4 linked regions of the Homo sapiens genome follow. The protein of the gene in region 2 interacts with the protein of the main gene of each other region in a biochemical or structural test. Each region holds a gene or a part of one and is shown on either strand. Other genes may lie near its edges.

Region 1 (3,665 bases), on a different chromosome or scaffold from region 2:
AATTATTAAAAAGTTGGCTTAAAAGTAGTGGTTGCTGGCCGGGTGTGGTGGCTCATGCTTGTAATTCCAGCACTTTGGGAGGCTGAAGCGGGTGGATCACCTGAGGTCTGGAGTTCGAGACCAGCCTGGCCAACATGGTTGGTCCTGTCTCTACTAAAAATACAAAAAAAGTTACCCAAGCGTGGTGATGGGCACCTGCGATCCCAGCTACTCAGGAGGCTGAGGCAGGAGGATAGTTTGAACCCAGGAGGCGGAGGTTGCAGTGAGCTGAGATGGCGCCACTGCACTCCACTCTGGGCAACAGAGTGAGACTCTGTCTTATAAAAAAAAAAAAAGAAAAAAAGTAGGGGTTGCTGAGAAGGAAAGGCCACAAGTTGGTAGACCTATTTACTCCTTATCCGCAGCCCAATACAGTTCAAAATGTCTCTAGAATTACTAATACCTGAAATTATTCTCTACAAAGCAACCTACATGAGCATTTGAAAATTAAACGCTACTTCTCTGCTTCCAATCCTCATTGCAATTAGAATAAATTCTCAACATTTTTTTTTTTTTTTTTTGAGACGGAGTCTTGCTGTGTCACCCAGGCTGGAGTGCAGTGGTGCAATCTTGGCTCACTGCAACCTCTGCCTCCCGGGTTGAGGCGATTCTCCTGCCTCAGCCCTCCTGAGTAGCTGGGATTACAGGCACGCGCCACCACACCTGACTAATTTTTTTTGTATTTTTAGTAGAGACAGGGTTTCACCACATTGGTCAGGCTGGTCTCGAACTCCTGACCTCATGATCCACCCGCCTCGGCCTCCCAAAGTGCTGGGATGACAGGCGTGAGCCACCGCGCCTGCCCTAAATTCCCAGCTTCTAACCGTGGCCCACAAACACCAGGCCATCCCTGCTCTGGTTACCACTCTGACCTCATCCGCCAACAGCCCCCGACAACCCATCCTGAGGCTCCAGTCACATCCCTTCTGCTCCTGGAGTTCCTGCCTGCCTTGGCCCCTTTACTCTAGCAACCCCCACTGCCCCCATCTCTGAATATATGACTCATCTTTGTCATTCTGATCTGAGCTCAAATGTTAGTTTCACAGAGAAACCTTCAAGACCACCCTAAGGTAGTACCCATTCCTTAAAAGTCATTCTCATAGCTACTGTTTTATTAAGTTATTTGGAATGATATTCATTTAGTGAACACTCCACTGAAGCCAGCACAGGGCCAGCCGACACATTGTAAACATTGAGATTTCTGAACAAATGAACGAAATTAAAGCGTAGATCTCCAAAGGTCACTCTTAGCCATTTAGATACTACAAAAGATCTCAATTTTATACAAATGAAATACAAAACACAGTTCAACAGAAATTAAGAAACAATTCAATTAGTATTTATTGGTACCTAATCACAGGCTTGCCTGTGATATAGGAATACAATAGTTTAAGAATTCCACAAATTTAAAATGAATTGTGTTGAAAAGAAACCATGTTATATATGCTAGCCTGTAAAGGAGAATTTAACTCAAAATACAGCAGAACTACTTCAGGTAACAAAAATAGCAAGAAGAAAACTCCTCTCATGTTATTGAAACTGAAAAATTAGAAGGAGTAAAAAAAAAACAAACTGTTATTTACACTGAATGCTACTGCTTAAAGAAATGAAATTTAATTAGAAAGAAAGAAGGGAACAAACTTCTTAAGGGCTTTTGCAAGGTACTTCTAAGGACTCCAGTGGGCTTTTTATACCCTTATGTGGGTAGGATAAGGGTTTGTGGGGTTTTTGTTTTGCTTACAAATGGAAAGAAAGGAAAGAAAGCGATCATTTTCTCCCTAAAGATATGGGCAAGAGTTACAAAGAAAAAAGGAAATAATATAATTAAAAAGATTTTTGCAACATTTTGTGTAGTAGAACTGGACTAAAAATAGTGAAAGAGGGGCTAAGTATGATACATGGGATAAGCTCCCCAAGCACTGGGCAACCAGGAACCCCTGGATCAGACAGTCCTCTGAACTGGCACTGGCCAAGTCTCGACAACCTGACTTGCGGGAGTGAAGGGACGGGGGAAAAGAGCCTCAGGAGTTTCCCGTGAAATTCAGGAAGCCACATTTGAACAGAAAAGAAAGTTACACACATTAAACAAGACAGCATGAGATCAAGTGCAAAAACGGAGTGAGAGAAGAGCTCCTTATTTGTATCACAATGGGCATACACTATTTGACAGGCTAAATTAACATTTCACTTGAAAACATAAGTAATCATTCCGGTAACAGACAATGTAGTCTAACCAAAATCACATCGCAGGTTGACAGCCAACTGTTGTTTTCATGAATAGTAAACTGGGATACCAGAATTTAAAACGTATTCCTCCAGGGTGGAAACTGGATTTTCAATCAGACTGGCCCTAGGAGAAAGGTACTGTTCATTAGCAGAAGTGGCACTGGAGAAAAACTACGTTTCCCTTGGGTCTCTCCTCCCTGGGGCTCTCCCGCCAAGGTGAGGTCATTAATTATTTAACTAATCCAGAAGGGATAGGAAGGCTATATTTGCTAACATGCTGTTTTTTGCCATTTCCATTAAAAAGTGCTATTATTAACTAGTGTTGAAATCTTGACAAGTCAGCATTAAATGCTAATGAATCTTCATAAATAAACCCCACCGCTCATTTTCAAGTGTTCTCAGTTCCAGTTGTAATTTCTGGCTTTAAGGAGTGTCTTCTGGAGACGTAGTTCAGATCTTTTGGTTAGGTTTTTCTAGTTTGTTTGCAACCACAAAAAGGCATTGGTGATCTCTACTGTGATCACCTTTAACCTTTTTCTCTCAATAACTTCATATATTTACTTTGGCTTTTGTCCTTAGCAAATTCAGGTCTGGAAACACTGTTACTCGCTTGCTGAAGATAATCTCACACTCCAGATCAACTCTTTGGAAAAATGTTACATGAAAACTACACAGGAGTGATCCCAAATAAATGGAAAAGTAGCCCATACTCAGATGTGTGTTTATCCTCAAACACAAATCACTCATTTAATGACATAAATTACTATAAATGGTTTAAAAGGCAGTATCTCAATTCCTACAATTAACTGTCAAATACTCTTCCTCCAAACCAAAACCCACCTTAACTTTTAAAAATAAAAATTATTTTAAAAAATTCTTCTGAGCTTTTATCAGGGAACAGCATTGTATTATTTTTTCCAATGATAAAATGGCACAGTGAGTTTCTCAGCTGGTATTTTCACTACAGAAGGTGTACTTTCAGGGGTGTTGACTCAATCTTATACCTCATGATTACTGCAAAATAGGCACTGTTTACAGAATTATTTTAAGTTTTCAGATTAATATTGACTTTGTTATCATGCTTATTCTCCTAAAAAATAACTTATTAGCCCGGTGTGGTGGCTCATGCCTGTAATCCCAGCACTCTGGGAGGCTGAGGCCGGTGGATTGCTTGACCCCAGGAGTTTGAGACCAGCCTGGACAACGTGATAAAACCCTATCTCTACAAAAAAAATATAAAAATTAGCTGAGTGTGGTGATGTGTGCATATAGTCTCAGTTACTCAAGAAGCTGATGTAGGAGGATCGCTTGAGCCGAAGGGTTGAGGCTGCAGTGTGCGTTGAGCGTGCCACTGCACTCCAGCCACGGTCTGTCCCCCCTCCCACCGACTCCCTACAAGC
Region 2 (2,370 bases):
CCTGCCTTGGCCCCCCAAAGTGCTGGGATTACAGGCATGAGCCACCACACCCAGCCCCATTTTCTAGCCTGAATATGTCAGTGGTCAGAACATGGATCCTAGAGTCCCTTCCATCTTGGTCTCTCTCGAATAGTTTGAGTGCCTCCCTGTGTTCTGCCCTGTTGCATAACAGAGGTTGCTGGGTTACTCTTAACTACTTTGTTTGGGTTTAACATATTCAATAACTATTTTTGTGTTTTGTGCTCAGAGGGCTGAACATGTCCGAGTTTGTCTGTAACCTGTCAGCAAGGCCTTATGTGTACGACCTCATTGCCGTGTCCAATCATTATGGAGCCATGGGGGTTGGCCACTGTAAGTATTGACATCTGCTTCCTTCTGAGATGTTGAAATGTGCTCGGCCATCATCTCTCACCAGTGGACCAGGCATTGCCCTAAATGCTTTGCTTATGCAGTTTCACAGGCTTCATGCTGCACGCTTTCTTCATACTGATTCCCCTCTCTGTTTTTTTTTAATTCTTTTTTTTTTTTTTTTTTTGAGACGGAGTCTCGTTATGTCACCCAGGCTAGAACACAGTGGCGCAATCTCACTCACTGCAAGCTCTGCCTCCCAGGTTCACGCCATTCTCCTGCCTCAGCCTCCTGAGTAGCTGGGACTACAGGCGCCCGCCACCACGCCTGGCTAATTTTTTGTATTTTTAGTAGAGACGGGGTTTCACCATGTTAGCCAGGATGGTCTCGATCTCCTGACCTCGTGATCCGCCCGCCTCGGCCTCCCAAAGTGCTGGGATTACAGGTGTGAGGCACTGTGCCTGGCTGGTTTGCTCTTTTTTTGAGACAGATTCTCACTCTGTCACCCAGGCTGGAAAGCAGTGGCGCAGTCTCGGCTCACTTGCAACCTCCACCTCCCGGGTTCAAGCGATTCTCGTGCCTCAGCCTGCCGAGTAGCTGGGATTACAGGTGTGCGCCACCACACCTGGCTAATTTTTGTATTTTTAGTAGAGACAGGGTTTTGGCATGTTGCCCAGGCTGGTCTTGAACTCCTGGGCTCAAGCGAACCACCCTGCCTTGGCCTCCCAAAGTGTTGGGATCACAGGTGTGAGTCACCGTGCCCTGCCTGTGTTCATTTTTATTTGCTAATTTTTGCACACAAACATACCATTTGGGCAAGTTTCTCATCCTCAGTTTTCTCATCCATGAGGTTAGGCTGGTTGTGTGAGGGTCCACATTGGGCCTACAGTTGGAACTTCAAAATTGAAAGCCACCGTTGCTGCTATTGTGTCAAGCACAGACTGTGTGAACTGGCCTTGGGCACCTTCTCTGTTGCCCTTTCCCATGATCCTCACCACCACTTTGTGCAGTCAATGCTATAGTGAGGAAACTGAGGCTGAAGTGTTAAACACCTTACCTAAAACCACACAGTAAGTTGACACTGGATATCAGATCTCCATTGGGTTCTGTAGTTTCTGAGAGTCTGGGTGGAGCAGGAACTGGGCTGGGATTGCTGTAATAAACACATCCTGCTTGGGAATAGTGTAAAGTCAAGACAAGAAGCATTGCCTCTGGGAAATGCTTGAATCATTGTGGGAAACTGTTACCTAACCACAGACTCTGGACTCCTAGTTTTAGAGAAAGATAAATTTTTTTTTTTTTGGATATGGAGACTAAGGTATGTTGTTCACATCCCAGCTCTGCAAACCCAAACACCCAATGTTCCTCTAACTGGGATTATTCTGTAGGCTCCCGAGGCACTAAGCATTCTGTTGATGTTAGTAGCCACCTGCCTAGATGCAATGGGGGAGACTGACTTGGCATGTCCTTGTGAGAGCTATTGTTTTGCTTAAATCTTAGAAGTTTCAGCTCCTTTTATGGGTTCCCTGGTTTTGGATTATTGCACATAGCCATCCTGAAGATTGGCACTGAATAGCTCTGTTTTTTCTATTAGTTTCCCAAAATTATAGTTTAAAATCTTGGTCCCTGACAGCTCCATTTTTAGCCTTTTGATCCTTTTTGAGAAGGAACAGATTAGAAAAGAAGGTGAGTTGTTTTTTGGTTGTTAAGACACACACTGTAAACTTTTTTAATTTCAGGGGTTTTGTTTTGGGGATTTTTGTGTTTATTTAGTGCAAGCCTAATAAGCTAGCCAGATTAATTCTCTGGAGACCGCTAGAGTATTTTCTTTGTTGACTTGGCAGACACTGCATATGCGAAGAACAAACTGAATGGTAAATGGTATTACTTTGATGATAGCAACGTGTCCCTGGCCTCTGAGGATCAGATAGTGGTGAGTAGGCCATGATATGTGGTTCTTCCTCATGTCGTTATGGATTAAAGCTGGGAAGAGCCTCTATCAGGCTAGTTGGTTATTTCATC
Region 3 (3,665 bases), on a different chromosome or scaffold from region 2:
TGTTCCAGCTCAGGACCAATGAGGTTGATTTGGTGCTTGTCTCCTTTCTAGAGGAGGCAAGGCTCTTAGGATACACCCAAAGGACCTTATGTTCCGGATTAGGTTCCGCAGGCTCCTCAGCAGTGATCAGTGGTGTGGCCTTCTAGGGAAGACCAGTGGGTAGGTGTGGAGGAACAGAATTTAATTCCTCCCAGGCCTTTCAGCAGGCCCTTTACCGTTAAGAAGGAAAAACAAAACTATTCCTTTGTGCCATGGTGCAGTAGAAGTTAGAAGCCTATTTCATCCTGAGAGGAGCATGATGGGAATATCCCTGAAAGCAGCCAGAGGAAGTCAGCCTTTGGCAGGATGCATGAACCGACTCTGGCCCCAGCAAGGGCAGGGAAAGTGTGCTATGCGGTGTGTGTGTTCCTGGGCTCTGTGTTGGCTACAGGATCTGCCTAGTCCTCTCTTGGGTTGTAGGAAACACCATGGGATGATTGTTTTTACTAATTGCAGTGGTTGTGACCCCACGATTCCTCTCCTCCCATGAGCACGCTGTCTTCCGGAGACTTCTGTCACTTCTCACCATTGCTGGTTATCCTCCATTTTGCCCAGTAACTCCGCTTTCCTCTCTCGAGGGATGAAATGCCTCTTGTTTTGCCTGATACTTTATTTCATGACATTTGGTTCCGTGAAGGGATTTCACCATCCACTCTTAGGGGAACACCAAAACTTGTCTTAAGGCCGGCACAGGCCTCTCATCCCCTTCCTGTCGATGTCTTGGAGCCATGGATGGTTACTTTTCCAGTTACTTTTGACTCTCCCACTGGCATCATCCGCGGTGAAGCAGCTTGACGTATAGGGGTCGAGGTCGTTAAATTATTACTGAATTGAGTGAAACATATCATGGCCTTTGAGGCTTCTGTGGCAGGGGCTGGGGACACACAGCTCTTAACTGCCTTGGCCTGGAAGTGTCATGGGTCACTTACTCCCATCACCCATTGGCCAGAGCTAGTCATGTGACCCAACCTAACTGCAGGAGATGCTGGGAAATGTGCAGTTACTGTGCACAAGTTATTACAGGGATTCAGAGTTAAGTCGGATATCTTTACTCCCTCAGAACTTAGCATCCGCCAGGAAATCGCAAACATCTGCCGGCCTATGTGATCCTGAGGAAGAGCTGCTTCTGCCTGCTCTGATGAGTAATTTCAGGCCTCCTTCCTCTTTCTTCTCATACTTTTAAACCCGTGCTTGCCATGTAGATGAGGGAACAGGGAGGTGCCCCTGGCCATCTTTCTCGAGGCCCTGCCCCCTTAGCTGGCAGCGCTAGACTGTGCTCCTCCTGGGAGTTGAATCAGGAAGGAGTGCTGGCACCTCTGGGATGGCGCGTGTGCTCTGCTGAGAGCCCTTGTCGCCGACAGATGGGCTTGCACGGGGTCTCCACTGCTTGGGACCTTTCTGTTTGTCCCCAGCATGTGTGCAGTGGGGAGGCCTTTCTTCTGGAGCTGAAAGGAAGAGGATGAGAAAGTGAATGCTCTCCCACAGGCTTGCTGTTCACCCCCACCTGACCCTGAGGTGGAGATTTCCAGTAGCAGGCAGGCTCCATAGCCTCCACGTACACAACCATATCATTTCAGGACAGCTGCTCTCCTGGTTTCGGGTCAGAAGTTCTTAGAGTTCATCTTGAGCTTCTACCTGCTACAGACCCAATTCTTTGAGTAATCTAGAATGATACCACAGAGCGGAATTCAGCTTCTCTATAGAGATCATATCCCCAATAGACATTTTGGGTCATAGTAGGGCCTTCATGTACAGCTGTGCAGGGCGTGCACTGCACAACTCTAGAGTATGTCATTTACACTGGGGTCTATGTGAATGGTGCCCCCTGGAGTTGTGCAGGGTGAAATCTCTACAAAGGTACAAGGCAGACTGTGATAGCTTCAAAAGAATACCGTGTTTGACTTGCCTGGGAGTCGTTTAGAGAAAGTATTGCTCGAGGCTTTTTGTGACATACTTTCTCGGTTTCAGAAGGGCTGTTAGGCACTCGAAATGACTTTAGCTCAGTTTTAAATTTGGAAGATGGTTTGGTATAATAAGGGAACTCCTGAGACGATTTGAGGTTTAGAGATCTGGATTTAGGGCTCTAGGAACTTTATCTCTTGTAAGAGGTACTTAGATTCCTATTACAATGGCTCATTACACATGGGTGTGAACACACACACTCACACTCACGCCTTCCTTTTATGCGCTAGGGAACACTGGGACTAAGAACCGCAGCACTGAAGCTTTTATGGATTTGAATGTGGTAGCAACTTAACTAGTATTTTTTTTTTTTTTTTTTAACTAACTTGACGTGGGAGTTTCCATATATTACTTTGGTCATTGTAAACTCCAAAAGCTTCTTCTGGAAAATATTTCCTGAGATCTTCTCATGGCTCTTTCACATTCCTGCTTTTCCAGCCAACTGGTAACGGAAGCCTTTATATCTTTACCTTAGGACAACAGAATTGAGTGAAACAGTCACGTTTGGATTGTCAGACTTGGTACCTTCTTTAGAGCCCAAGAGAAAACATCTTGAGTCCCATAGTAATATGTAACCCCTGGGATTATATTTGACATTATTTCCTTTTTAACCCTCTACACTGGGTAAAGGATAGAGGTCCCATGCCATTTGCTCACCTGAGTTTCTTTTCTTCTACCCATATCGTAGGCCCTTTCTTTCTTCTGTTACATTTAAAGGGGTAGTAGCGTGGCCACTTCCCTGGAGATGCATCTTCCTCTTCACTAAGTGTAGGGTTTATCCACTTTCTCATGTCTTCTTTTTATTAAAACACAATCCCTGTCCTCCAGAAGTCTCTAGTCTAAATGACAACTTCTTCAGTAGTCAACATCTCCGTGCTATATCCTAAAGGCACAGCTTCTTTGTGTGTAGAGGAATTTTCAGATGCCTTCACAGTATATTGCAAGGAATTGGAAACGGGGATGCTTTTTCACACATGGCTGAGAAGCCCTTGGGTATGTGGATGCTGATACTCCTTGAAGTTAAAACATTTCTGTGCCCAGTTTTTATGAATACTTCAGGCTCCTAAATGAACCGAAACTAGGCCCGCCTGCCTGTTCCAGGATAGCCAGGTGGCACTTTGCCCCTCACGTGGGAGAGGCGCGGGCATGGAGATGGTCCATTGCAGGCCCATGAGATGCCAGCTTCATGATAAAGCACATGAGGTCCTTTTAAAAGAAATTGTACATGAAGGAACATAGCGCGTTTCAACAAGATCCCCGAACAGAAGGCCAAAACAAAGCTCCCAAGTTGCACAGGCCCCTTCCCCTCACAGAAAAGATAGGCCATTTCTACAACAGATGGCCCTCAGCCCTGGGTGGAGCCTAAGCTTGGTGGCATCACCACCTTGAGGTTTTCCTGACAGAACCTAACGTGTTCTCGAGTTTCTTTCTTTCTTTTTTTTTTTTTTTTTTGAGACTGAGTCTTGTTCTGTCACCAGGGTGGAGTGCAGTAGCACGATCTCAGCTCACTGCAACCTCTGCCTCCCAGGTTCAAGTGATCCTCCTGTCTCAGCCTCCCCAGTAGCTGGGACTACAGATATGTGCCACCACGCCCAGCTAATTTTTTGTATTTTTAGTAGAGATGGGGTTTCACCATGTTGGCCAGGATGGTCTCGATCTCTTGA
Region 4 (3,665 bases), on a different chromosome or scaffold from region 2:
GAGGCGGGTGGATCATGAGGTCAGGAGTTTGAGATCAGCCTGACCAATATGGTGAAACTCCTTCTTTACTAAAAATACAAAAATTAGCCGGGCAAGGTGGCATGTGCCTGTAATCCCAGCTACTCAGGAGCCTGAGGCAGGAGAATCACTTGAACCTGGGAGGTGGAGCTTGCAGTGAGCCGAGATCGCGCCATTGCACTCCAGCGTGGGTGACAGAGCATGACTCCATCTCAAAAAAAAAAAAAAAAAAAAAAACCACAAAATCTATTCAACAGATATTTAGTGAACAGCTACTATCCAAGGTGCTCTGTGTCCTAGGCAGACCCAGATTCTACCCTCAAAAAAAATATACTTTGGATATTTAAGAAATTCACATAAAGGAAGAAAGCAATACATGACATAAAAGACTTCAATGTTTACCAAAATGAAAGAATATGTAATAAAGGGTATAGAATGGTCAGAGATGTCAGAAATAAATTTGCTGGATTCCCAAGAAGCTCTCACTGTGCGGGAGAGCTAGGTTAGATCACTATGGCTCACAACCTGCTCTCAGCTATAAAGGTCCTGGACCCAGAGATGGTCAAGTCCAAGGAGATTGGCATACATGCACACCAAGCTTACCAGGGATTGAAAAACCAAAAGGCCAATGACTAGATGAACTGGATAATTAATTATGATTTAAAGATGGGCCCAGACTAAAGGGATCTGGATGGTACTGGAGATACTTCAGCCACACAACACAAATGTGCAAGCCAGACTTCCAACACAGCCTTTCTCTCCAAGAGCATAGACCAGATACAGTATTACCCATTCTTAGGCAGTATTGGATAAATAGAGGATCTGGTAGATACAGATATATGCTATCAATGGTAACTATTATGAGATTTCAGAAAGTTAAAAGTTGCATTCAGCCATAAACATCAAGGGACACTTTATGGAAGAAGTGGTAGTCTGACAATGTCTTTGAAATTGCATAGAGTTTGCAGTGGTGACTTGGGGAAGAACACTGTAGACAGAAGGGAAAGCATGAACAAAGAAAGTGAGTGGTTTATTTTTGCTGGAATTCAGGGTATACAATGGAGGATAGTAGAATGTTATGAGAGAAATTGGAACCAGATCATGGAGGGGTCTTGAAAGCTAGTTAGGAAGTTTAAGTGTTATTCTTTGTGTAATAGGGAGTCATCATAGAAAAAAACATGATTAAGGCCGGGCACGGTGGCTCACGCCTGTAATCCCAGCACTTTGGGAGGCTGAGGTGGGCGGATCACTGTAGGTCAGGAGTTCAAGACCGGCCTGGCCAATGTGGTGAAACCCCATCTCTACTAAAAATTCAAAAATTAGCTGGGTGTGGTGGCAGGTGCCTGTAATTCTAGCTACTTGGGATGCTGAGGCAGGAGAATTGCCTGAACCTGGGAGGCGGAGGTTGCAATGAGCCGAGATCACACCACTGTACTCTAGCGTGGGCAACAGAGCTAGACTCTGTCTCAAAGAAGAAAGAAAGGAAAGAACAAAAAAACATGATTAGAACTGTACTCTGAGAAAATTAACTTGGTTGCAGTGTGTAAGTTGACTGGGAGGAGGGAATCCTAGCTGCAGAGGCCTTTGGGAAGCTACAAATTCTATATAGGAGGACTGAAACTAGGACAATATTGGTATAGGTGGAGCAGAGACTTTAAGGTACAAACCAGGAAGTATCATAGTATTTTCCTTGCATGCACACACATGCACACACACTCCAAAGCAAAATATAACCTATAACCTATGTAACCCAAATATAATATAAAAGAAAATCATTCTTTATTTCTATGAAATTCTCCATTTATAAAGAACAGAAGATTGAAAAACCATTGATTCATGTAGCCAATTTAATTGAGTTTTAGATAGTCTAAATATCAAATTTGTTAAAAATGGAATTTCCAAAGCACCAACATAGTGGGTATCCATACCTAAATAGACATCTTCAGGGAAAAGAAAAAAATATCCTACATAAGTAAATGTTCTTCTTTCCCAGGATAACTAGGTGATTTCTCCAAATCGACTTTGTTTCAAATACTTTCTAACATTAGCTAACCCAACTAATAGGAATGTTGCAGAAAACAGAAACAAGAGCTTTGTGAGAAGTTTGATTACCTGTATGGCATTTTGGAGGAGAGGAAGAATGAAATGACCCAAGTCATTACCCGAACCCAAGAGGAGAAACTGGAACATGTCCGTGCTCTGATCAAAAAGTATTCTGATCATTTGGAGAACGTCTCAAAGTTGGTTGAGTCAGGAATTCAGTTTATGGATGAGCCAGAAATGGCAGTGTTTCTGCAGGTAAGTCTCTTTTTGGCACCAAAGTAACAACCCAAAAGGTGGGTGTTGGAAAATTAGTTATCACATTTTTATTATTTTATGTACATTTCAGTTTTTATTTATTTTACCAACTAAAATATAAACCCCATGTGCTTATATATTAATCTATTTAAACAACTTAAATAGCATGTCTATGATACTGCTTAAATCTAATAGGGTTCTGTTATAAGACAGCAGTTATTTATGACATTTAGAAACTAAGCTATGAGATTCTCAGAGTCAACAAAGGAAATAATTGTCTTACCACTGTCTTTTGTGGAAATAATTTAAGTAAGACTATCTTTTGTTTGCTTTCACAGAATGCCAAAACCCTGCTAAAAAAGTAAGAACTTTTTATTTTATGTAAAAATGCATATTTTCACCTTTACCCAAGGCTATCCAATTTTCAACAGTGACAGAAAGTGGCAACTTGTCTTTGTTGCAGAATCTCGGAAGCATCAAAGGCATTTCAGATGGAGAAAATAGAACATGGCTATGAGAACATGAACCACTTCACAGTCAACCTCAATAGAGAAGAAAAGATAATACGTGAAATTGACTTTTACAGAGGTTTGTTATTCTTTTGACCATTTGGCCGAAGTTGCAGGTGTGTGAAAGCTGCCGAAGAGTTGGGTGGGAGGAAAGCGGGGATTCAGAATCACCTCCAGAATCAATGTCGACAACTTTACAAGGATCATATCCAATGTGAAGCTCTATTTCATTACAGGATCACATCGTTTGTTGACAGTGTTTATTTAGCTTTGCACATATGGTGCCTTTTTTTTTTTTTGATGGACTCTCACTCTGTTGCCCAGCCTAGAGTGCAATGGCACGATCTTGGCTCACTGGAACCTCCACCTCCTGGGTTCAAGCGATTCTCCCGCCTCAGCCTCCTGAGTAGCTGGGATTACAGGCACCTGCCACCACACCCGGCTAATTTTTGAATTATTAGAGAGGTAGGGTTTCGCCATGTTGGCCAGGCTGGTCTCGAACTTCTGACCTCAGGTGATCCACCTGCCTTGGCCTCCCAAAGTGCTGGGATTACAGAAGTGAGCCACCATGCCCGGCCTGGTGCCTATTTTAATGTCAGGTTGGGTATTTGACTCTTGATAAGCAAATGCTTCATAATTGATAATGATGATATCTCAACTTCAATCCTATGCACAGTGTTAGCCAAAATAATGTAAAGTGTCAGCAGGAGCAAGGTTAAAGATGAGATAAAAACAATACATAGGAGGCATGTGGGTTAGATATTGCAGCACATCAACTTAATCAAAATTTAGAGGACAAGAATAGTAACAACTCATAGAATAAGTCACAACCTGAACATA

The links. The genes of interacting proteins can lie anywhere in the genome.
Region 1: the proteins of USP4 (region 2) and RHEB form a complex in vitro, tested with the Homo sapiens proteins (one study listed by BioGRID).
Region 3: the proteins of USP4 (region 2) and TCF7L2 form a complex in vitro, tested with the Homo sapiens proteins (one study listed by BioGRID).
Region 4: of the proteins of USP4 (region 2) and TRIM55, one has a biochemical effect on the other in vitro, tested with the Homo sapiens proteins (one large-scale study listed by BioGRID).

The regions. Positions count from the first base shown.
Region 1 is NC_000007.14:151,492,297-151,495,961, forward strand, and holds part of RHEB (GTP-binding protein Rheb), read right to left. Parts: intron 1-3,665. UniProt on the Homo sapiens protein: Small GTPase that acts as an allosteric activator of the canonical mTORC1 complex, an evolutionarily conserved central nutrient sensor that stimulates anabolic reactions and macromolecule biosynthesis to promote cellular biomass generation and growth.
Region 2 is NC_000003.12:49,278,725-49,281,094, reverse strand, and holds part of USP4 (ubiquitin carboxyl-terminal hydrolase 4), read left to right. Parts: intron 1-247; coding exon 248-351; intron 352-2,192; coding exon 2,193-2,281; intron 2,282-2,370.
Region 3 is NC_000010.11:113,152,681-113,156,345, forward strand, and holds part of TCF7L2 (transcription factor 7-like 2), read left to right. Parts: intron 1-3,665. UniProt on the Homo sapiens protein: Participates in the Wnt signaling pathway and modulates MYC expression by binding to its promoter in a sequence-specific manner. Acts as a repressor in the absence of CTNNB1, and as activator in its presence.
Region 4 is NC_000008.11:66,147,563-66,151,227, forward strand, and holds part of TRIM55 (tripartite motif-containing protein 55), read left to right. Parts: intron 1-2,082; coding exon 2,083-2,316; intron 2,317-2,654; coding exon 2,655-2,677; intron 2,678-2,779; coding exon 2,780-2,904; intron 2,905-3,665. UniProt on the Homo sapiens protein: E3 ubiquitin ligase that plays an important role in regulating cardiac development and contractility, muscle growth, metabolism, and fiber-type differentiation.